3 linked regions of the Homo sapiens genome follow. The protein of the gene in region 3 purifies or fractionates together with the protein of the main gene of each other region. This does not show direct contact. Each region holds a gene or a part of one and is shown on either strand. Other genes may lie near its edges.

Evidence for each region. Proteins that work in one complex are often made in the same cells at the same time.
Region 1: the proteins of SLC25A41 (region 3) and AP2A1 purify together in Homo sapiens (affinity purification with mass spectrometry; 3 studies listed by BioGRID and IntAct, with this or other methods). This does not show direct contact.
Region 2: the proteins of SLC25A41 (region 3) and CEP131 purify together in Homo sapiens (affinity purification with mass spectrometry; 3 studies listed by BioGRID and IntAct, with this or other methods). This does not show direct contact.

Annotation. Positions count from the first base shown.
Region 1 is NC_000019.10:49,769,995-49,777,016, reverse strand, and holds part of AP2A1 (AP-2 complex subunit alpha-1), read right to left. Parts: intron 1-7,022.
Region 2 is NC_000017.11:81,219,950-81,227,418, forward strand, and holds the start of CEP131 (centrosomal protein of 131 kDa), read right to left. Parts: upstream 3,017-7,469; 5' UTR 2,820-3,016; exon of another isoform or gene 2,697-2,819; intron 125-2,696; 5' UTR 108-124; coding exon 1-107. UniProt on the Homo sapiens protein: Component of centriolar satellites contributing to the building of a complex and dynamic network required to regulate cilia/flagellum formation.
Region 3 is NC_000019.10:6,430,761-6,438,381, forward strand, and holds the start of SLC25A41 (mitochondrial carrier protein SCaMC-3L), read right to left. Parts: upstream 3,004-7,621; 5' UTR 2,934-3,003; coding exon 2,727-2,933; intron 1,445-2,726; coding exon 1,289-1,444; intron 1-1,288. Other genes in the region: mitochondrial adenyl nucleotide antiporter SLC25A23, read right to left, coding at 5,560-5,704. UniProt on the Homo sapiens protein: Calcium-independent ATP-Mg/Pi exchanger that catalyzes the electroneutral exchange of Mg-ATP or free ADP against an hydrogenphosphate and participates in the net transport of adenine nucleotides across the mitochondria inner membrane.

The DNA.
Region 1 (7,022 bases), about 43 Mb from region 3:
CCTCAAGTGATCCACCCGCCTCAGCCTCCCAAAGTAAAGTGCTAGGATTACAGGCATGAGCCACTGCACCTGGCCTTTAAATAGGCTTTAAATGGTCCACATCTATTTGATGCTATCTTCTGCATAACTGGTATAATTTGCTATAAAAAAAGGAATTCAGAGAGAGAAGAAAAGCTCTCGGTCTTCAAAACAGGAGCAGTTGTGGCCCCAAAGGGAGGGCTCTGGCAGAGGCCCAGCTCTGCAAAGATCTAAAGGCCCGTGATGGCCAGGGAGCCCAGGGATACTGTATGGGTGCTACTGGGGTGGTGCCTGGGGAAAGGGCTGAGGCAGCTCTGACAGACCAGGATCATGGGAAGAATGACCCGGCATTCAGGGCCAGCAACAGGGGGAATGAGCTCACTGTCACAGGAGGCAAGCAAGCCTGTGAGAGAGTTTTAAAGGGATTCTCTCATTCACAATGGGATTTCTGGGGCCAGGCTTAAGGATGAGTCACATCTACCCTGCTCTCGAGGCATCCCTGGATTGGAGTGGTGGCAGACAGGGACAGTGGCAAGTATTCTGAAAGAGGTATACACATTTCGGGGCTGAGAGGCTAAAATGAGAATGGCGCAGGGGACGGGGAAGGCTTCTCTGCACACAGCTGCTGGGATCTGAGGATCAAAAGATGAGGCTGAAATGGACCAGGCAGAAACAAGGGGAGGCGCGCTCCAGGCAGGAGGACCAGCAGGTGCAATGGCCTGGAGGTAGGACAGCATGAGGCAAGGCAGGCGGACGGTGATGAAAGAGGCACAGAGTCTGAGGATGCGGGCGGCGGCGGGGGCGGGTGGAGAAGAGCACAGCAGGTGGGGCCAGACCACGCAGCCTCTCCAGAGTTTTCTGAGGTGCTGGGGGGGGCCATGGGAGGGGCAGGCCGTGCTCCGTCCAGTGGCTGTTGCCGTGAGGGGTGTTCGGGTGCGAAGGCGGCCAACATCTTGCTCCAGGCAGAGTAAGGCAGAGTCAAGGGAAGTGCTGACGGGGCCAGGGAGCTGCCTTACCTTGGAGCTTCTGGTTAGGGGAGATAACGCCTTCCCTAAACATGTAAGCCCCAGATCAGGGTGGGTCTGTTACTACCAGCAAAGGCATCCTGTCAAACCTGGGCCCTGCCCTGGAGGGACTAATGTGCATTTATGAAGGTAACACAGGCATCACCCAGCATCTCACCGCAAAGGCCTTCAGAGCCTTCTAGACCAAGGACATTTCCTCTACAGAGACCGAGACCTGATGTGCTTCCTGTACAAGCCCCAGCAGCCCTGAATCCTCAGAAAGCCTTCTGAAGGCTGGGTGCAATGCCTCCCGCCTCTAATCCCAGCACTTTGGGAGGCTGAGACAGGCAGATCACTTGAGCCCAGGAATCTGAGACCAGCCTGGGTAACACAGGCTCATACCTGTAATCCCAGCACTTTGGGAGGCCGAGGCAGGTGGATCACTTGAGGTCAGGAGTTTGGGACCAGCCTGGCCAACATGGCAAAATCCCATATCTACTAAAAATACAAAAATTAGCCGGGCATGGTGGTGCACACCTGTAGTCCCAGCTACTAGGGAGGCTGAGGCAGGAGAATCGCTTGAACCTGGGAGGTAGAGGTTGCAGTGAGCTGAGATCCTGACACTGCACTCAGCCTGGGCCATACAGCAAGACTCCATCTCAAAAAACACTGGTTACACACTGAAATAATAGTTTGGATATACTAGGGTAAAGAAAATATATTAAAATGAATTTCACTGATTATTTTGCTTTTTTAAAAAATATATGGAGACAGGGTCTTGCTGTATTGTCCAGGCTGGAGTGTGGTGGTGCGATCTTGACTCATTGCAACCTCGACCTCCTGGGCTCAAGCGATCGTCCCATCTCAGCCTCCGAAGAAGCTAGGACTACAGGTGCATGCCACCATGCGTGGCTAATTTTAAAAGTTTTTTTGTGGTGGGGAGAGACAGGATCTTGTTGCCTAGGCTGTTCTCAAACTCCTGGGCTCAACCAAACTGCCCGCCTCGGCCCCACAAAGTGCTGGGATTACAGGCGTGAGCTGCCATGCTCAGCCTGTTTTGCTTTTTTTTTTTTTTTGAGACAAAGTCTCTCTCTGTCACCCAGGCTGGAGCGCAGTGGCACAATCTCGGCTCACTGCAACCTCCACCTCCTGGGTTCAAGCGATTCTCCTGCCTCAGCCTCCCGAGTGGCTAGGACTACAGGTGTGCCACGAGGCCCAGCTAATTTGTGTATTTTTAGTAGAGACGGAGTTTCACTATGTTGGCCAGGTTGGTCTCAAACTCCTGACCTCGTGATCCGCCTGCCTCGGCCTCCCAAAGTGCTGGGATTACAGGCGTGAGCCACCATACCTGGCCCCTGTTTTGCTTTTGCAATGTGGCAAGAAAATTTCAACATATGCCGGGCGTGGACAGAGCAAGACTCCGTCTCAAAAAAAGAAAAAAAAAAGAAAATTTCAACATATATATGGCTTGCATTTTGGTGCTGGGTTACACCACTCATATTCTCAAGGTCATCACTATTCCTGGGTGATGAAAATATATTCTTCGTAAATAACAAAATCAAACCCTCTCATTCTCCTGGTCAGCCCCCCTGCTCAGCAGGGCGAACTATTTGGGCCACCAAGACCCTGCCTGAGTTGCCTCCTTACATATTAAGGGTTTGCATGTTCATTTCCTCCTGGATCGGAACACCAGTGCCATGAGGCCAGGGATGTACGGCTGCTTCAGTCCCCACAGTGTTCCCAGGGCCCAGGGCAGCCTGGCACAGGGGAGGTGTTGAATGCGGATTTGTGGACCAAAGCCATCACACAATAACCAGCTGGAAACGGGTGGGGCTGGGGCTCAGGCCTGCATCTGTCCCGTTCTTAAGGGATACCAAATTGAAATCTGTTTGACTTCCTGTGCTCTTCACAGAGGCCAGAGGGATCATGTGAAAACTTGAGTCAGACCCCAGCACTCCTCCAAACCCCTTCCATGGCTCCCAGCAAGTTCGAAGTAAAAGTAAAGTTCTCACTGCAGCCCACAAGGGCCTGCACCATCTACCCTGTTCCCTCTCTGGCCGGTTCTCCTGTCCTCTCTCTCCAAGGCAGGAGCTGCCCTCTCCTCCTCCTAAGTCCCTGCTCCACTACAAGCACAATCCTGCCTCAGGGCCTTTGCACAGGCAGCTCCCTCTTCCAGAGTCATGCATGCACCATTCCCCCACTTAGTTAGATTCTCTGCTCCAATGCCACCTTTTCAGCGACACTCTCTGACCAGCCTATATAAGAGCATCATCCTTAACTCCATCCCCAAGCCCTTTCCTTGCCTCATTTTCCATCAACACCTACTCCCACCTGTCCGGCCCCCAAAATATTCACCTGTGTAGTGGACCATCTCCTCTCTAGAACGTGAGCACCCTAGGGCAGGAACTTCTGCTCACTGCTGTAGCCCCATCACCTAGAACAGTGCCTGGCACCCAGCTGGAACTCAAGAAAGACTGGTTCCATCATTCATTCATTCATTCAACTGGCAATCATCTCCTGAGGCCTCCCATGGGCTAGAACCTACAGAGGACAAAGCTGGAGTGAGACCCAGGGCCTGGGCTCGATGTCACCACTGCAGTGGATCACCATTTGGAGTGGGATGTGCTCTGATGGAAGAGCTCAGGGCAGTGTGCAGCCAGCACCCCGCTCCCATTGGCTCACTCGTCCAACTCTCCTAAGGCCCACTCCAGCCAGACTCTGCCTAGATAGGAGGCAGCCCCAGCCCTTGCTCCCTGTGAGATAATACTTCTGCTGTATTCCTGCTGCAGACAGGACAGAACACGCCCTCGGGCTGGGCCCAGCCTCAACCTCTCCCCCTCCTTATCTGCAGAATTTGCCCTCCCTGCCCTCCTTAGAGCCTGCCTTTCACCTTCTAGACCCTTCCCCATAGCCCCACTGTGCCCTTCAGATCCTCCTGCTGGCTGGCTCCACACTCTTCCCTCTGCTGCTCTCTGAGCCCTGCCTCTCCCCACCTCCTCCTCCGCATCCCTCCGCCCTTCTCTTCCCTCGCTCCTGCTTGAAACCTTCTCCAGAGCTCTCAGGACAAACACGGACCTAGCCTCTGCCCACTCCCCAGCGTCAGATCCCATCCCTCTCTGCACCAGCCACACAGCCCTTTTCTCAGGGTCTCACTGGGGCATCAGGGCCTTTTTTTGTTTCCAGAAAGAATTCTTGGGCCGGGCGCGGTGGCTCACGCCTGTAATCCCAGCACTTTGGGAGGCCGAGACGGGCGGATCACGAGGTCAGGAGATTGAGGCCATCCTGGCTAACACAGTGAAACCCCATCTCTACTAAAAAAAAAATACAAAAAATTAGCCGGGCGTGTTGGCGGGCGCCTGTAGTCCCAGCTACTCGGGAGGCTGAGGCAGGAGAATGGCATGAACCCGGGAGGCAGAACTTGCAGTGAGCCGAGATCGCACCACCGCACTCCAGCCTGGGGGACAGAGCGAGACTCCGTTTCCAAAAAAAAAAAAGAATTCTTGAAAATAGAGAAGGGGGCCAGGCACTGAGCCTCACTCCTGTAATCCCAGCACTTCGGGAGGCCGAGGTAGGCAGATCACTTGAGCCCAGGAATTTGAGACCAGCCCGGGCAACATAATAAAAACCCATCTCCGTGAACCCGGGAGGTGGAGCTTGCAGTGAGCGGAGATCGCGCCACTGCACTCCAGCCTGGGCGACAGAGCAAGACTCCATCTCAAAAAAAAAAAAAAAAAAAAAAAAAAAAAAACTCTATGAAAAATACAAAAAAATTTGCTGGGCATGATGGCATGTGCCTATAGTCCCAGCTACTTAGGAGGCTGAGGCGGGAGGATAGCTTGATCCCAGGAGGAGGAGGTTGCAGCGAGCTGAGATCGCACCACTGTACTCCAGCCGGGATGACAGAGCCAGACTCTGTCAAAAAAAAGAAAGAGAGACAGGGTCTTGCTATGTTGCCAAGGCTGGTCTCAAATTCCTGGCCTCAAGCAATCCTTCTGCCTCCACCTCCTGAGTAGCTGGGACTAGATAGAGATGCCCGCCATGGCGTCCGGAAGTCAGGACCTTTGCACTTGCCCCGCCTCTGCCTTCACAGCTCTTCTCACTGCCCTCAGCCTAGGTAACTCCCCTACTTCCTGCCCACACAGCTCCAAAGGTCTCTTGTGAAGCAAAGCCAGGCCGCAGCTCGCTGACCACACAGAATCCCCATTCTCTCAACACCATGGCCCTCTTCCTCACTGGGCTTAGGACAGCTGCAAATTCTTTCCCCATTTAAAAAAAAATCGAGATACGGCCAGGCGCGGTGGCTCACACCTGTAATCTCAGCATTTTGTGAGGCTGAAGCAGGCAGATCACTCGAGATCAGGAGTTCGAGACCAGCCTGGCCAACATGGTGAAACCCTGTCTCTACTAAAAATACAAAAATCAGCGGGGCATAGTGGCGGGCGCCTATAATCCCAGCTACTCGGGAGGCTGAGGCAGGAGAATCGCTTGAACCTGGGAAATGGAGGGTGCAGTGAGCCAAGATCGCGCCATTTTTGTGACTGTCACAAAAAAAAAGAGATACAATTCACATACCATAAAATTGACCCTTTTACAGTGAACAATTCAGCGTTCTTTAGTACATTCATGATGTTGTGCAACCATTACTACTATCGAATTCCAGGACCTTTCTTTTTTTTTTTTTTTTTTTTTTTAAGAGATGAGGTTTCACTATGTGGCCCGGGCTGGATTCGAACTCCTGGGTTCAAATGATCCTCCTACCTCAGTCTCCCAAGTAGCTGGGACTACAAGCATGTGCCGTGTCCAGCTGTAGGCTTTTTCATGAACCCAAAAGAAGCTCTGAATGCTGCCGGGCATGGTAGCTCACACCTGTAATCCTAGCACTTTGGAAGGCTGGGGTAGTGGATCACCTGAGGCCAGGAGTTCGAGACCATCCTGACCAACATGTAAAAACCCCGTCTCTACTAAAAGTACAAAAATTAGCCAGGTGTGGTGGCACACGCCTGTAATCCCAGCTACTCAGGAAGCTGAGGCAGGAGAATCGCCTGAACTTGGGAGGCAGAGGTTGCAGTAAGCCGAGATCACCCCATTGCACTCCAGCCTGGGCGACAGAGTGAGACTCCATCTCAAAAAATAAAAAAAGAACCTATGCATTCATGAGCAGTCACTCCCCATCCCACCAGCCCCTACTCTAGGCAACCACTAATCTTTCTGTCTCCATGGATCTGCCTATTCAAGATACTCTATCAACATGGAATCATACAACACGTGGCCTCCTGTGTCTGGCTTCTTTCACTTGGTGTCATGTTTTCAAGGTCCATCCCTGTGGCAGCATGTAGCAGGACGTCATTATTTTTTAAGGCCCGGTAATATTCCACTACATAGACCACACTTTATTTCTCAGTTGATGGGCATTTGGCCCGTTTCTGTTTTCCGGCTATCATGAATAATGTTGCAGTGAACATCCGTGTCCAGGTATTAGTGTGAAGGACTACTGCAATTTGTATGTTGCACCTTCTCCCCCACAGGGCTGGGAGCTTCATGGAGGGGGTGGACAAGTCTGTCCTGTTCACCAGTGTCCCCAGCATTCAGCACAATTCTTGAGACATACCAGCCGTTCAACATACGCTTGCTAAGAAAAGGCTCCTGATTCTCCAGCCCTAATTCCTGTGGCTAAATTACTACCAGTGCCCCAAGCCTGCATCTCCCCTCTGTCCTCTGGCTCGTCTCTGGGGTCCTGCAGTGACGGGACGATCTCTTTCCTTCCCCAACCCCCATCATCAAATCCCTTTGCAAATCCTGACAGTTTTTCCTTCAAGTTGTATCCCAGGCTGGGTGCAGTGGCTCACGCTTATAATGCCAGCACTTTGGGAGGCCAAGGCGGGCAGATCACTTGAGGTTGGGAGTTCGAGACCAGCCTGGCCAACATGGGGAAACCCTGCGTCTACTAAAAATACAAAAATTAGCCAAGCGTGGTGGCGGGTGCCTGTAATCCCAGCTACC
Region 2 (7,469 bases), on a different chromosome or scaffold from region 3:
GCACTGCCAGGACGCCGGGACACAGGCGGAGGGAGACCTGTCAGACTCAGGTCCACACCTGCTGGGCTGCGCTCCGGGACGCTGCCGATGGCCCGGGTGCCTTTCATGGTGGACAAGGCAGGTCCTGAGCGGGGAAGCAAGAGCTGCAATGAGATGCCGTGGGGGAACTACAGTCCCCTGCACCCACCATCTCCAGCCCAGCCTCAGCTGGGTCCACTGGCCACCAAACTTCCTGGGAAGGCCTGTCACAACCTATGCACCCCTCTGGCTGGTGGCAGGCTCCTCGACAGGAACATGAGGGAGCTGTTCTGAGCCCAATGTCAGTGTATGCCAGGGCAGGAGGGCCCTGGATGATGGACAGGTGGGTGGCGAGGGCAAGGCCCGTGGGTGGGAATAAGCCAGCAGCACCCCAGAGGGAGCCTGGGCCACAGGCCATTGTCGATGTGAGCCAGGTTCTGCCATCTACCCCACACCGTGATTCTGAGAAAGTCACTGCCCCGAGCCCCACTGTTTTCTTCTGTAAAAGGGACATTTGATTTATTTTTTATTTTATTATGTTTTTGAAACAGAGTCTCGTTCTTGTCACCCAGGCTGGAGTGCAGTGGCGCGATCTCGGCTCATTGCCACCTCTGCCTCCCGGGTTCAAGCGATTCTCCTGCCTCAGCCTCCTGAGTAGCTGGGATTACAGGTGCCCGCCACCACGCCTGGCTAATTTTTGTATTTTTAGTAGAAGTAGAAACGGGGTTTTGCCATGTTGGCCAGGCTGGTCTCGAACTCCTGACCTCAGGTGATTCGCCTGCCTCGGCCTCCCAAAGTGCTGGGATTACAGGCATGAGCCACCGTACCCGGCCCCTAAGTAAAAATACACATTTTAAAAAGGGGTTGCGTGTTGGCCGGGCACAGTGGCTCACTCCTGTAATCCCAGCACTTTGGGAGACCAAGGCAGGCAGATTGCCTGAGCTCAGGAGTTCAAGACCAGCCTAAGCAACACAGTGAAACCCCACCTCTACTAAAAACTTCAAAAAATTAGCCGGGCGTGGTGGCGAGCGCCTGTAATCCCAACTACTTGGGAGGCTGAAGCAGGGGAATTACTTGAACCTGGTAGGCGGAGTTTACAGTGAGCCAAGATCGTGACACTGCACTCCAGCCTGGGCAACATAGCGAGACTCCATCTCAAAAAAAAAAAAAAAAAAAAAACGCGGGAGTGGTTTTGTGAGGTCCAGACAAGATGCTGGTCTCAAGGCCTCAAGGCTGCACCGGGCAAACACTCCCTGGGTAATGTGTTATTCCAGCAGGGGACGGGGGTTCTGACGATCGATCGAGGGGATTAGCTTGGGGATGCTGGCTTCCTTACTTTGGAACTTCTCAGAGCAAACCCTGCCGGCCCCCAGCCCGTCCCCACATGGCACCTCTTTCTGAACGAGTCTTTCTGATCTTTCTGAACGGGTCTCAGCTCGTGCATGTGCCCCTGCCAAAAACCCTGCAACAGCTTCCTAGGCACAGAGAATAAAGTCTACACATCCAACTCCTGCAAGATCTGGCCCTGTACTCTCTGTGACCTCGCCAGCTCCCCTGCTGTGCCCCTTTGTTGTGGCTTTAGCCAACACAGCCTCCCTGGTTCTCCTCAAACTCAGCCAGCTTGGCCCCGGCCAGTCCCCTGCCTCTAGGTCTCAGGACACTCCCTCCCTGCACTCAGAGGCCTTCCTTGAGCACCCATCACTCTTCACTCCCCATCCGGCTCGGACTCCCTTCCTGTGGCCGCACACAGTTGGTTTATGAATTGTGTGGCTCCTGAGCAACCCCAGCACCTGCAGGGAAAGGCACTCAGCTGAACCCGTAGATGAACGGGAGAAGCTGGCGCCAGGGACCAACCTCGAGAATTACCTCCCTGCCACGGTGGCCTCCAGTAGGCCAGCAGGCACCCAGCCTATCGCCCAAGGTCACCCTGGGCTTCCTTCAGCCCGGCACCCCACAGCAGGTCCCCCAAGGTCCCTTCCACGGAGCGATGGATACCCCTACTCCCTAGAGGCTGACCCTGCCACTGACCAGGTCCCAGTCCTCAGTTATGCACTTCCGGCTGTGCGGAAGAAACTTAACACCCTCCTCCTGCAGGGCACTGTCCACCCCTGGCTGGACCCATGCAAGCCCTTGGAGCCCAGGACTCTGCTCTCCCAGCCACACTTGCAAGCGGCTCTGGGATGGCGAACGGGGCCTCTCCATGGAAACCTCCAAGCCAGAAGAAGGGAGGCCTGGGAGGCCACTACATCTTGGATAAAACTGTGTCCCTCCCAGGACCTGAAGGGGCGGGGACTGATGACCAGCGCCAGGACCTGGTTCCCAGGGTGGGCTGACCCTGACCCTGACCCTGACCCTGGACAGAGAGGCCAGAGCCCACGCGCAGAGCAGAGCCCTCCACTTGTCCTCAGGGCAGCTCCCATCTCCCCATTTTCCCCAGGGCTTAAGGCAGCCGGGCCAGAGATGCCGGGACTGGACTCCATGTTGTCCTGGGGACCGGAGGGGAGTGGAGGGAGGTGGAGAGGGTGGAGGGGATGGAGGTGGGGACCCACACCCTCAGGCACGAGCCTGTCTTCACCTGCGCGGGCCCCGGACCTCCCTCACCTGTGCGCACCCTGGATCCCCCTCACTTCCCCCGGATCCCGCCTTCAATTGCGCGGGCACCAGATCCCCCCACTCACCTGTGCGTGCCCCGGATCCCCATCACTTCATCACTGGACCAGGGCCTCCCACCTGCGCGGGCTCCGGACCCCTCCAACCTCCGTGCGCCCTGCAACCCCCTCCCTTGCCCGGGCCCCCCTCACCTGCGCGGGCCGGGGGCGCAGCCGCGAAGCCTGCCTGGCGCGCGGGGCCTGCAGATTCGGCCGGCGGGGAGGGGATGCGGAACCAGTCGCGCCCAAACCTCGGGTCGGCGACCTGGCGCCCCGCCACCCCCAACACTGCCCCGAGGCCCGGTGACAATGAAGCGGCCGGACGGCCGGGGTGAGCAGCGGCGGCAGCTAGCAACCAGCCTGGCACCACCTCCCCAGCCCGTCACGCCGGCCCGCCTTTCCTGCGCGCGCCGACTCCGGATTGGCCCTTCACGCTCCCGCTCAGGCCGTCCCGGGAGCTCATTGGGCCGCTCGGCTGTCCTTCGGGAAGTTCAAGCGTGGGAGGAGCGGCGGATGGCTGAGGGACGCGACTACAGAGAGCGGCCGATTGGACGCGGCTGGAAAGGGGCGGGTCATATAGGGGGCGGGGGACCGAGGGCGGCGGGAGGAGCTGGCCGGGCAGGGGCGGGGCCCCAGCGGTTGTGGGCGGGGCGTGAGGTGGGGGTGTGATGGGCGAGTAGGGCGAGGCAGATGTGGGCGGGGCAAGGCAGGTGTGGGCGGGGCACGCAGGGCCTGGGGAGGAGACACCAGGGAGGGCGCGAGGAGCACGCGGCCTCGGCTCGGCTCCCCGACACCCCCAGGCCGCCGCACTCCCGCGGCCCGGGGCTCCCCCAGTGTCCTAGGCCGCTCTGTCCCCACCCACGTGCGCGACTCCCCTCGTTACTCAGTACGACTGCGAGGGCGTGTGGGCGCCTTGCTAACCTCCCTGACCTCCTTCCCTTCGCGCTGCTTTGTTGTTTTTTTTCCTTCTCCAAAGTTTTAACGCTGCGCCCCGTGCGTAGCCGCTCTGTGACTCCCCCTCTCTCCGGGAGCCCTGGGGATTCCGCCCAGGTCCTCTCCAGGGAAGCCATCCTTCCCCTAAAAGTCACAGCACACTGGTCTCCCCTGCCCCCGCTTTTTAAAAAGTCCAGTGCTCTGTAAAATAAAAAGTTTGGTTTCAGTAAAATCCACATTTTTTGGTGTGCAGTGGAGTTGTGTAACTTTAGTTACAGAACATTCTCCCTCCGGATCCCGTACCTGCTGACTGCTGGTGGCGGCTGCTCAGTTCTCTCTGTTCTCCATCCCTAGAGGCAGCCTTTTCCAGAATGTCACACAAAAGGGATGTCGCGCAGCGCGCCTGTGGGTCTGGCTTCTACCACTTCGCATTTTGAGATTCATGCTGGTTCCTCTTTATTGCTGAGTGGTATCCTGTAACCGGTGTGAACCACCGGTTCAGATGGTTTTATTTATTGATGGTTTTATTCATCAAATGAAGGACGCAGAGATTGTTCCTGGTGCTTGGCAATTATGAATGACGCTGCCATAAACATTCACTCATCGGCTTCTGTGTGGACACAACTTTTCATTTCTCTTGTGTAAATACCCAGGAGTGGGGTTGCTGGATCAAATGATTGTTTATAAGAAACTGCCGGCCGGGCGCAGTGGGTCCCACCTGTAATTCCAGAACTTTGGGACACTGAGGTGGGCGGATCACCTGAGGTCAGGAGTTCGAGATCACCCTGGCCAACATGGCAAAACCCCGTCTCTAGTAAAAATACAAAAAAATTACCCGTGCCTGGTGGCGTCTGCCTATAATCCCAGCTACTCAGGAGGCTGAGTCAGGAGAATCGCTTGACCCCAGGAGGCAGAGATTGCGGTGAGCGGAGATCACCACTGCACTCCAGCCTGAGCGACAGAGCAAGACTCCATCTCAAAAAAAAGAAAAAGAAAAAAAAAAGGAAACCGCCAAGCTATTTTCTTTTTCTTTTTTTTCCTTTTTTTTCCGAGATGGAGTCTCCCTCTGTCGCCCAGGCTGGAGTGCAATGGCATGATCTTGGCTCACTGCAAACTCCACTTCCTGGGCTCAAGCAATTCTCCTGCCTCAGCCTCCCGAGTAGCTGGTATTACAGGCACATGTCACCATGCCAGGCTAATTTTTGTATTTTTAGTAGAGACAGGGTTTTGTCATATTGGCCAGGCTGGTCTTGAACTGCTGACTTCAGGTGATCCACCCACCTCGGTCTCCCAAAGTGCTGGGATTACAGGCGTGGGCCACCACATCGGCCTACTAAGCTATTTTCCAAAGAAGTTGTACAGCTCTACGCTCCCACCAGTGCCACAGGTGTTGCAGTTGCTCCCCATCCTCCTCAGCTCTTGGTATTGTCAGGGATTGGTTTTATTTGTTTACTTATTTATTTATTTATTTATTATTATTTTTTTGAAACAGAGTCTCGCATTTTTGCCCAGGCTGGAGCATAGTGGCGCGATCTCAGCTCACTGCAAGCTCCGCCTCCCGGGTTCACGCCATTCTTCTGCCTCAGCCTCCCGAGTAGCTGGGACTACAGGTGCCCGCCACCACGCCTGGCTAATTTTTTTGTATTTTCAGTAGAGACGGGGTTTCACCGTGTTAGCCAGGATGGTCTCGATCTCCTGACCTCGTGATCCGCCCGCCTTGGCCTCCCAAAGTGCTGGGATTACAGGCGTGAGCCACCGCGCCCGGCCTACCACATTGTCTTGATTAGTGTTTTTGTTGTTGTTGTTGTTGCAGAGATGGGGTCTCACATGTTGCCCAGGCTAGTCTCAAATTCCTAGGCTCAAGCAATTCTCCCACCTTCACCTCCCAAAGTGCTGGGATTACAGGCATGAGCCACTGCACCTGGCCTAGAGTCAATCCTGAAATCAGGTTTTGAGTCCTTTGTTCTTCTTTCTCCAAATTACCTAGGCTATCCAAATTCTTTTGACTTTTCCTATAAATTTGAGTTTCAGCTTGTCACTATCTTAAAAAATATCCAGCTGTGATTTTGATGGGGATTACATTAAATCTGTAGACCTGTAACCTGGAAGAATTGACACCAGAATTTATGAACATGGTATATCTCTCCACTTATTTAGATCTTCATTGATTTCTTTCATCAGTACTTTGAAGTTTTCAGCATACACATCCTACATATATCTTTCTAATTTATACCTAATCATTTCATTTTTGGAGTGCCATTACAGATGGTAGTTTTTTATGGTTTAATTTCCAATTGTTTATTGCTATTACAAAAGTGTAACTGATGTTAGTATATTTACCCTGGAGCCTGTGTCTTTGCTAAACTCACTTCTTAGTCTTAGGAAGTTTTTGGTAGATTTCACGGGATTTTCTACAATCCTGTTTTCTGTGAATAGTATGTTTTATTTCTTCCTTTCTAATGTGTCTGGCTTTCTAGTTTTTTCTTGCTTTATCGAACTGGCCAGGGCTTCAGTGTAATGCTGAACAGAAATGGTTAGCATGCACACCATGGCCTTCTTTCCAATCATAGGGGAAAAGCATTCAGTCCTTCAGCATTAAGTATGATGTCAGCTGAGGGGTTTTTGCAGAAACCCCTTGCCACCCAAAAGATCTCTTACATTTCTAATTTGTCAAATTTGGGAGGGTTTTTGGGTCATGAGTGAATGTTGAATTTGTTTCTTGTTTTTTCTGCATAAAATGATCATGTGATTTTTCTTTACTGTTAATATGATGGATTGAATTACACTGATTTTCATAGGTTGAAACAGCCTTGCATTCCTGGGATATATTCCACTTATAGTGATGTATTACACTTTTTATATATTACTGGATTCATTTTGTTGTTTTCTTGAGGAATTTTGCATCTATATTCCAGAAGGATATTGATCTCTAGTTTTCTAGACCAAGTGTACATGGAACATCCACCAAGATAAACTATATTCTTGGCCATAAAACAAACTTTAACAAAAGTTTGAAATCCTTAACAAAAGTGTGAGGCCAGGCACAGCAGCTCATGCCTGTCATCCTAATACTTTGGGAGATTGAGGTGGGAGAATTGCATGAGGCCAGGAGTTGGAGACCAGCGTGGGCAACATAGCAAGAGCTCCATCTCTACCAAAGAAAAAAAAGGCCATGTGTGGTGACTGAGGCATGAGGATTGCTTAGGACTGCTTGAACTCAGGAGGTTGAGACTGCAGTGAGCTGTGATTGCACCACTGCACTAGGTGACAGAGCTAGAGTGCAGTGGCACAATCATGGCTCACTGCAGCCTTGACCTCTGGAGTTCAAGCAATCCTCCCGCCTCAGCCACCTGGGTAGCTGCGACCATGCCTGGCTAATTTAAATTTTTTTTTTTTTTTTTTTTGTAGAAACGGGGTCTTGCTATGTTGCCTAGGCTTGAAATCTTTAAACAATATAACAGAAATCATATAAAATATGTTCTCTGACTATATCAGAATTAAATCATAACACAATATGCTTTAAAATAACCCATTGGACAAAACGGAAGTCTCAAGATAAATTTGAAAATATTTTGAGCTGAATAACAATTTAAATGTACCAAAATTCATAGGATGCAGCCAAAGCAGTGTTCACAGGAATGTTTATAGCATTACAAGGCTCACATTAGAAAATAAAGGACATGATAAATAATCTAAGCTTCCACCTTAAGAAACTGAAAAAGGCTGGGCGCTGTGGCTCATGTTTGTAATCCCAGTGCTTTGGGAGGCCGAGGAGGGTGGATCACAAGGTCAGGAGATCGAGACCATCCTGGCTAACATGGTGAAACCCAATCTCTACCAAAATACAAAACATTAGCCGGGCATGGTGGC
Region 3 (7,621 bases):
TACAGGCATCAGCCACCGCGCCTGGCCTTCTTTTCCTTTTCTTTCTTGTTTTTTTGTTTGTTTATGTTTTCGAGACAGGATCTTGTTCTGTTGCCCAGGCCGGAATGCAGTGGTGCAATCACAGCTCACTGCAGCCCCAAACTCCTGGGCTCAAGTGATCCTCCCACCTCAGCCTTCCAAGTAGCTGGGACTACAGGTGCGTGCTACCATGGCAGGCTAATTTTGTAAAATTTTTTGTATAGATGGGGTCTTACTATGTTGCCCAGGCTGGTCTCAAACTCTTGGGCTCAAGCGATCTTCCCACTTTGGCCTCCCAAAGTGCTGGGATTACAGGTGTGAGTCACCATGCCCGACTCCTTTTTAAATTTTTAATTAATTAATTAATTAATTATTATTTTGTAGAGATGTGGTCTGACTATATTGCCCAGCTGGTCTCAAACTCCTAAGCTCAAGTAATCCTCCCTCCTTGGCCTCCCAAAGTGAGCCACTGCACCCGTTTATTTTTTCAGCCAGGGATCTCGCTCTGTCACCCAGGCTGGAGTTTGTGGCATGATCATGGCTCACTGCAGCCTCCAACTCCTGGGCTCAAGCAATCCTCCTGCCTCAGCCTCCTGAGCAGCTGAGACTATGGGTGTGAGATATCCTGCTTGAGGTAGCTCCAGTTCTATGTTGCCTTTTTTTTTTTTCTTTCTTTTTTGAGACAGAGTCTCACTCTGTTGCCCAGGCTGGAGTGCAGTGATGCAATCTCGGCTCACTGCAACCTCCATCTCCTGGGTTCAAGCAATTCTCCTGCCTCAGCCTCCTATGTAGCTGGGACTACAGGCACGCACCACCATGCCCGACTAATTTTTTTGTATTTTTAGTAGAGACAGGGTTTCGCCATGTTGGCCAGGCTGGTCTCAAACTCCTGACCCCAGATGATCTACCTCCCCTGGGCCTCCCAAAGTGCTGGCATTAGAGGCATGAGCCACTGCACCTGGCCCCTACCTTGTCTTTAAACTCGTCCAAAGACCCCATCCCCAATTCCCTGACCTCCAACCCCCACCTTGGCCCAGCGTTGGTCCCTGTCCCTGGCAAGTTCTCTCAACTCCTCAAACTCGACTCCAAGCCATGTCCACACCAGCTCTATCACCATCCACAACCTCAATCTCAGCTAGTCCAGGAGAGCCCAACTCCAGCCAGCACTCCTATCCTGAACTCCATCCACGTCAACTCCATCTGTCCTCACCCCACGTTCTCCCCAGTGGCTCCAGCGCTGGGTCCCGTCCTCCCCCCAACCCACACAAACCTGCATGTACACCTTGGCTCTGTCCAGAGGTGCCGTGCCCGTGCGAGACACCGCCCCGGCCATAGCTCCTGAGAGTAGAAACTTCCACAAGGCCTCCTTGTTATCCACTTCCAGGACTTCCACGGGGACCATCAGCTGCTCTCCTGTGTCCAGTACCTGCAGGGCAGACCCGGCCCTCCCTCATCCTCAGCCAGGTTGGGGCACCTTCCCCAGACACACATCTAGGGCACCCACCTGGTGAAAGACCCACCCTGTTCCCCCAAGTCTGCATTTTTTTTTTTCGAGACGGAGTCTTGCTCTGCTGCCCAGGTTAGAGTGCAGTGGCACAATCTCAGCTCGTTGCAACCTCCACCTCCCAGGTTCAAGCAGTTCCTGCCGCAGCCTCCTGAGTAGCTGGGATTATAGGCATGCACCACAACACCTAATTTTTTTTTTTTTTTTTTTTTTTTTTTTTAGTAGAGATGGGTTTCACTATGTTGGCCAGGCTGGTCTCTAACTCCTGACCTCAAGTGATTCAACCCTCCCCCCTGGTTTTTTTTTGTTTTGTTTTTGTTTTTTTTTAGACAGAGTCTCACTCTATCGCCCAAGCTGGAGTACAGTGGTGCGATCTTGGCTCACTGCAACCGCTGTCCCCCTGGTTCAAGCGATTCTCGTGTCTCAGCTTCCCAAGTAGGGACAATGGTGTGATCTCGGCTCACTGCAACCTCCGCCTCCTGGGTTCAAGTGATTCTCTTGCCTCAGCCTCCCCAGTAGCTGGGATTACAGTGCCAACGTGCCGAGCAAATTTTTGTATTATTTTAATAGAGGCAGGGTTTCACCATGTTGGCCAGGCTGGTCTTGAACTCCTGACCTCAGGTGATCCACCTGCCTCAGCCTCCCAAAGTGCTGGGATTACAGGTGTGAGCCACCACACCCAGCCAATGTAATATAGACTCTCTAAGTTACTCATGGAGGATCCAAGGAGGAATACAAATGTAATTAGGACTATATCTAGACTCTTAATTTATTCTTATTTTTTGAGACAGAATCTCGCTGTGTTGCTCTGGCTTGAGTGCAGTGATGAGATCTGGGCTCACTGCAACCTCTACCTCCTGAGTTCAAGCGATTCTCCTGCCTCAGCCTCCTGAGTAGCTGGTACTACAGGCGCCAACCACCATGCCTGGCTAAGTTTTGTAATTTTAGTAGAGATAGGGTTTCGGCATGTTGGCCAGGTTGGTCTTGAACTCCTGTCCTCAAGTGACCCATCCACCTCAACCTCCCAAAGTGCTGGGATTACATGTGTGGAGCCATCGCGCCCTGCCTCCCTGCCCCACCCTGCTTCAAGGTGGAATTCTAGGTCCGCTAGCAGGGGAGTGGGCCTGTAGAGGGCGTGGGTAGCCTGGCCTCTCCCTGTAGTCCTGACCAGAGGTGCCGGGACACTGGTGTTTCCTAAACTCACCTGCTGTGACGGGAGATGTTCAAGGTTGTTGTCATGCATGTGGCCAAACGCGTACCCATACACGTGTGTACAGCCAGGGTTCCAGGATGGGGGTGGAGGCGGAGGTTGGGGGGGAGGCGGGGCTTTGATGAGTAAGGTCTTGACCCTCCTAAACAGTGTCTGGATCCTAGAGCAAGTGTTCTGAGGTTCCCCAGGCTGAGCGCCCATGGAGGAAGTTAGGACACCTGGCTTCAAATCCCTAAGCAGTTGTTTGCTGCTCCAGCTACCATGCGGGAGTGTCTAGTGGGAGGATTGTGTGGGGGACCAAGAGGAGGATGAAGTCACAAACGCCCCTGTGACCTTCCTAGGTGTGGTGGGCAGCGTGATGGCCCCCTTCCCCCAAGTATCCACCTCCTGATCCCCCAAACCAATAAATATGTTATCGTTATAAATTGAATTGTGTCCTGTCAAAATTATTATTATTATCGTTTTTTTTGAGACGGAGTCTCGCTCAGTCTCCCAGGCTGGAGTGCAGTGGCGCTATCTTGGCTCACTGCAAGCTCCGCCTCTGGGGTTCACACCATTCTCCTGCCTCAGCCTCCCGAGTAGCTGGGACTACAGGCATCCGCCACCACGCCCAGCTAATTTTTTTATTTTTTAGTAGAGACGGGGTTTCACCGTGTTAGCCAGGATGGTCTCGATCTCCTGACCTCATGATCTGCCCACCTCAGCCTCCCAAAGTGCTGGGATTACAGGCGTGAGCCACTGCTTCCGGCCGCAAAATTCTTATGTTGAAGCCCTATTTCCCAGTGGGTTGGAATTTGGAGACAGGGCCTTTGGGAGGTCCTCAGGGTTAGATGAACTCATGAGGATGGCCCCTGCAAGATGGAATTAGTTCCCTATAAGGAAAAGACAAACCAGAGCTCTTTCTCTCTCTCTGTCTGCCATGGGAGGACGCAGCAAGAAGGCATGGCAGGAAGAAATCCCTCAGCAGGAACTGAGCTAGCCAGCCACCTTAACCTTGGATTTCCCAGCCTCCAGAAATAAATGTCTGCAGTTTAAGACCCCGCTCTTTAGTGTTTCCTTATAGCAGCCTGGGCTGACTTACATTTGTTACATGGCAAAGGGGAATTAAGTTTGCAGATACAAATAAGGTTGCTAGGCCTGATGTGGTGGCTGACGCCTGTAATCCCAGCACTTTGGGAGGCCGAGGTTGGCAGATCATCTGAGGTCAGGAGTTCGAGACCAGCCTGACTAACATAGTGAAACCCAGTCTCTCCTAAAAATACAAAAATTAGCCAGGTTTGGTGGTGTGCCCCTGTAATCTCAGCTACTCTGGAGGCTGAGACAGGAGAATTGCTTGAACCCAGGAGACAGAGGTTGCAGTGGGCCGAGATTGAGCCATTGCACTGCAGCCTGGGCAACAGAGCGAGACTCCATCTCAAACAAACAACAACAACAACAAAACTTTGCTAGGCTGGGCGCCGTGGCTCATTCCTATAATAGCAGCACTTTGGGAGGTCAAGGCAGGTGGATCACTTGAGCCCAGGAGTTCAAGACCACCCTGGGCAACATGGCCAGACCCCTGTCTCTATAAAAAATACAAAAATTAGCTGGGCATGGTGGTCCATGCCTGTGGTCCCAGCTACACAGGAGGCTGAGGTGGGAGGGTTGCTTGAGCTTGGGAGGTGGAGGCTGCAGTGAGCTGAGATCTTGCCACTGAACTCCAGCCTGGGTGACAGAGCGAGACCCTGTCTCAAAAAAAAAAAAAAGAAAAAAAAAAAAAGAATTAAGGTTGCTAAACAGCTGATGGGAAATGGTCTCACTCTGTCACCCAGGCTGGAGTATAGTGGCACACTTAAGGTCAATCCCCTTGACCTCTCTGTTCAGGTGGTTCTCCCACTTCAGCCACCCGAGTGGCTAGGAACACAGGTGCGGACACCACGCCCGGCTAAGTTTTAAAAATTATTTTTGGCTGGGCGTGGTGGCTCACACCTGTAATTCTAGCACTTTGGGAGGCCAAGGCAGGTGGATCACCTGAGGTCAGGAGTTTGAGACCAGCCTGGCCAACATGATAAAACCCCGTGTCTACTAAAAATAACGAAAATTAGCTGGGTGTGGTGGTGCATACCTGTAATCCCAGCTACTCAGGAGGCTGAGGCGGGAGGATCACTTGAGTCCAGGAGTTCAAGACCAGCCTGGGCAGCAAAGCAAGAAATTTTTCTACAAAAATTTTTTAAAATTAGCCAGGTGTGGTCATGTGCACCTGTAGTCCCAGCTACTTGGGAGGCTGAAGGGGGAGGCTCCCTTGAGCACAGGAATTAGAGGCTGCAGTGAGCTATGATTGTGCCACTGCACTCCAGCCTGGGTGACAGAGTAAGACCCAGTCTCTAAAAAACAAAAAAAGTAGTCAGGCATGGTGGTGTGTGCCTGTGGTCCCAGCTACTCCGGAGGCTGAGATGGGAGCATCACCTGAGCCTGGGAGTTTGAAGCTGCAGTGAGCCATGATTGCACCCCTGCATTCCAGCCTGGGGAGGGGACAGAGTGAAACCCTGTTTCAAAAACCAAAACCGAAACCAAACAAACAAACAAACAAAAAACCTGACAAAATCATATACATGTAGGTATATATGTATTAGCCAGCTGTTGCCATGTGACGAATTACCCCCCCGCCAAAGGTTGGCAGCTTAACACAACAAACATTTATCATCTCACCCATATTCTGAGCATTAGGAACTCAGGAGCCGCTGAGCCGGCTGTTCCCGTGATCAGTGTTTGAAGTATAAGAGTCTAAGATTCAGGATTCAGGTACTGGGATCCAGTTGTTTCGGTGGAGGGATCCACAAAGCTTGGACTATCCAGGGAATTCAACTGATAGAATTGCAGTGAGATGTTGGCCAGGACAGCAAGATCCTCTTCCAAGCTCAGTTACATGGCTATTGGCTGAGTTCCTTACCACATGGTCCTCTCCATAAGGCTGCTCATGGCATGACCACCGGCTTCCTCCAGAGCAAATGTTATGAGAAAGGGGGAGAGAGAGAGAGAGAGCATGTAACCAATAACCAGGATGGCAGCGACAGTGTCTTTTTTTTTTTTTCTTTGAGACATAGTTTTGCTCTTGTTGCCCAGGCTGGAGTGCAGTGGCACAATCTCGACTCACTGCAACCTCTGCCACCCAGGTTCAAGCAATTCTCCTGCCTCAGCCTCCTGAGTAGCTGGGATTATAGGTGCCCGCCACCACGTCCGGCTAATTTTTGTACTTCTAGTAGAGACGGGGTTGCCATGTTGGCCAGGCTGGTCTCGAACTCCTGACCTCAGGTGATTCACCCGCCTCGGCCTCCCAAAATGCTAGGATTATAGACGTGAGCCACTGCACCCAATCTTTTATTTTTTTATTTTTTGAGATGGAGTCTTGCTCTGTTACCCAGGCTGGAGTGCAATGGACCAATCTTGGCTCACTGCAACCTCCACCTCCTGGGTTCAAGTGATTGTCCTGCCTCAGCCTTCCGAGTAGCTGGGATCACAGGCATGTGACACCATGCCCGGCTAATTTTTGTATTTTTAGTAGAGACGGGGTTTCACCATGTTGGCCAGGCTGGTCTCAAACTCCTGGGCTCAAGTGACCTTGAACTCCTGAGCTCAAGTCATCCTCCCATCTCAGCCTCCTGAGCAGCTGGAACTACAGGTATATGCCATCATGCCCAGCTAATTGAAAAATTTTTTGTAGAAATGGGGTCTCACTGTGTTGCCCAGGCTGGTCTCAAACTCCTGGCCTCAAGCGATCCTCCCACCCCGACCTCCCAAAGTGCTGGGTTTACAGATATGAGCTACCCCACCCACCCTGAATTTTCTATTTTTTCCACAATAAATTTGAATTACTCATTGTGGGTTGAACTTTGTCCCCCAAAAAGATGTGTTCAAGCCCTAACCCCAGTAACCTGCAAATGTGACCTTATTTGGAAATACGGTCTTTGTAGATATAATCAAATTAAAATGAGGTTACACTGGATTGGGGGGGGTTGCCCTAATCCGATGACTGCTGTCCTTACAAGACATGGAATCGGCCAGGCGCAGTGGCTCACGCCTGTAATCCCAACACTTTGGGAGGCTGAGGCAGGCGGATCACGAGGTCAGGAGTTCAAGACCATCCTGGCTAACATGGTGAAACCCCGTCTCTACTAAAAATACAAAAAATTAGCTGGGCATGGTGGCGGGTGCCTGTAGTCCCAGCTACTTGGGAGGCTGAGGCAGGAGAATGGCATGAACCCAGGAGGCGGAGCTTGCAGTGAGCCAAGATCGCGCCAGTGCACTCCAGCCTAGGCGACAGAGCAAGACTCCATCTCAGAAAAAAAAAAAGGCCGGGCGCGGTGGCTCATGCCTATAATCCCAGCACTTTGGGAGGCATCCTGGCTAACATGGTGAAACCCCATCTCTACTAAAAATACAAAAAAAAAAAAAAATTAGCTGGCTGTGGTGGCGGGTGCCTGTAGTCCCAGCTACTTGGGAGGCTGAGGCAAGAGAATGGCATGAACCCGGGAGGCGGAGCTTGCAGTGAGCCGAGATCGTGCCACTGCACTCCAAAAAAAAAAAAAAAAACAAACTTGGAATTTGCACTTTGGGAGGCCGAGGCGGGTGGATCACTTGAGGTCAGGAGTTCAAGACCAGCATAGTGAAACCCCGTCTCTACTAAAAATGCAAAAATTAGCCAGTTGTGGTGGTGTGCACCTGTAATCCCAGCTATTCTGGAGGCTGAGGCAGGAGGATCACTTGAACCCGGGAAGCGGAGGTTGCAGTGAGCTGAGATCACGTCATTGCACTCCAGCCTGGGAAACAGAGCGAAACTGCATCTGAAAAAAAGGATGGAAATTTGGGCAGAGAGACACAGACACACATAAGGGAGCATACAGTATGAAGAT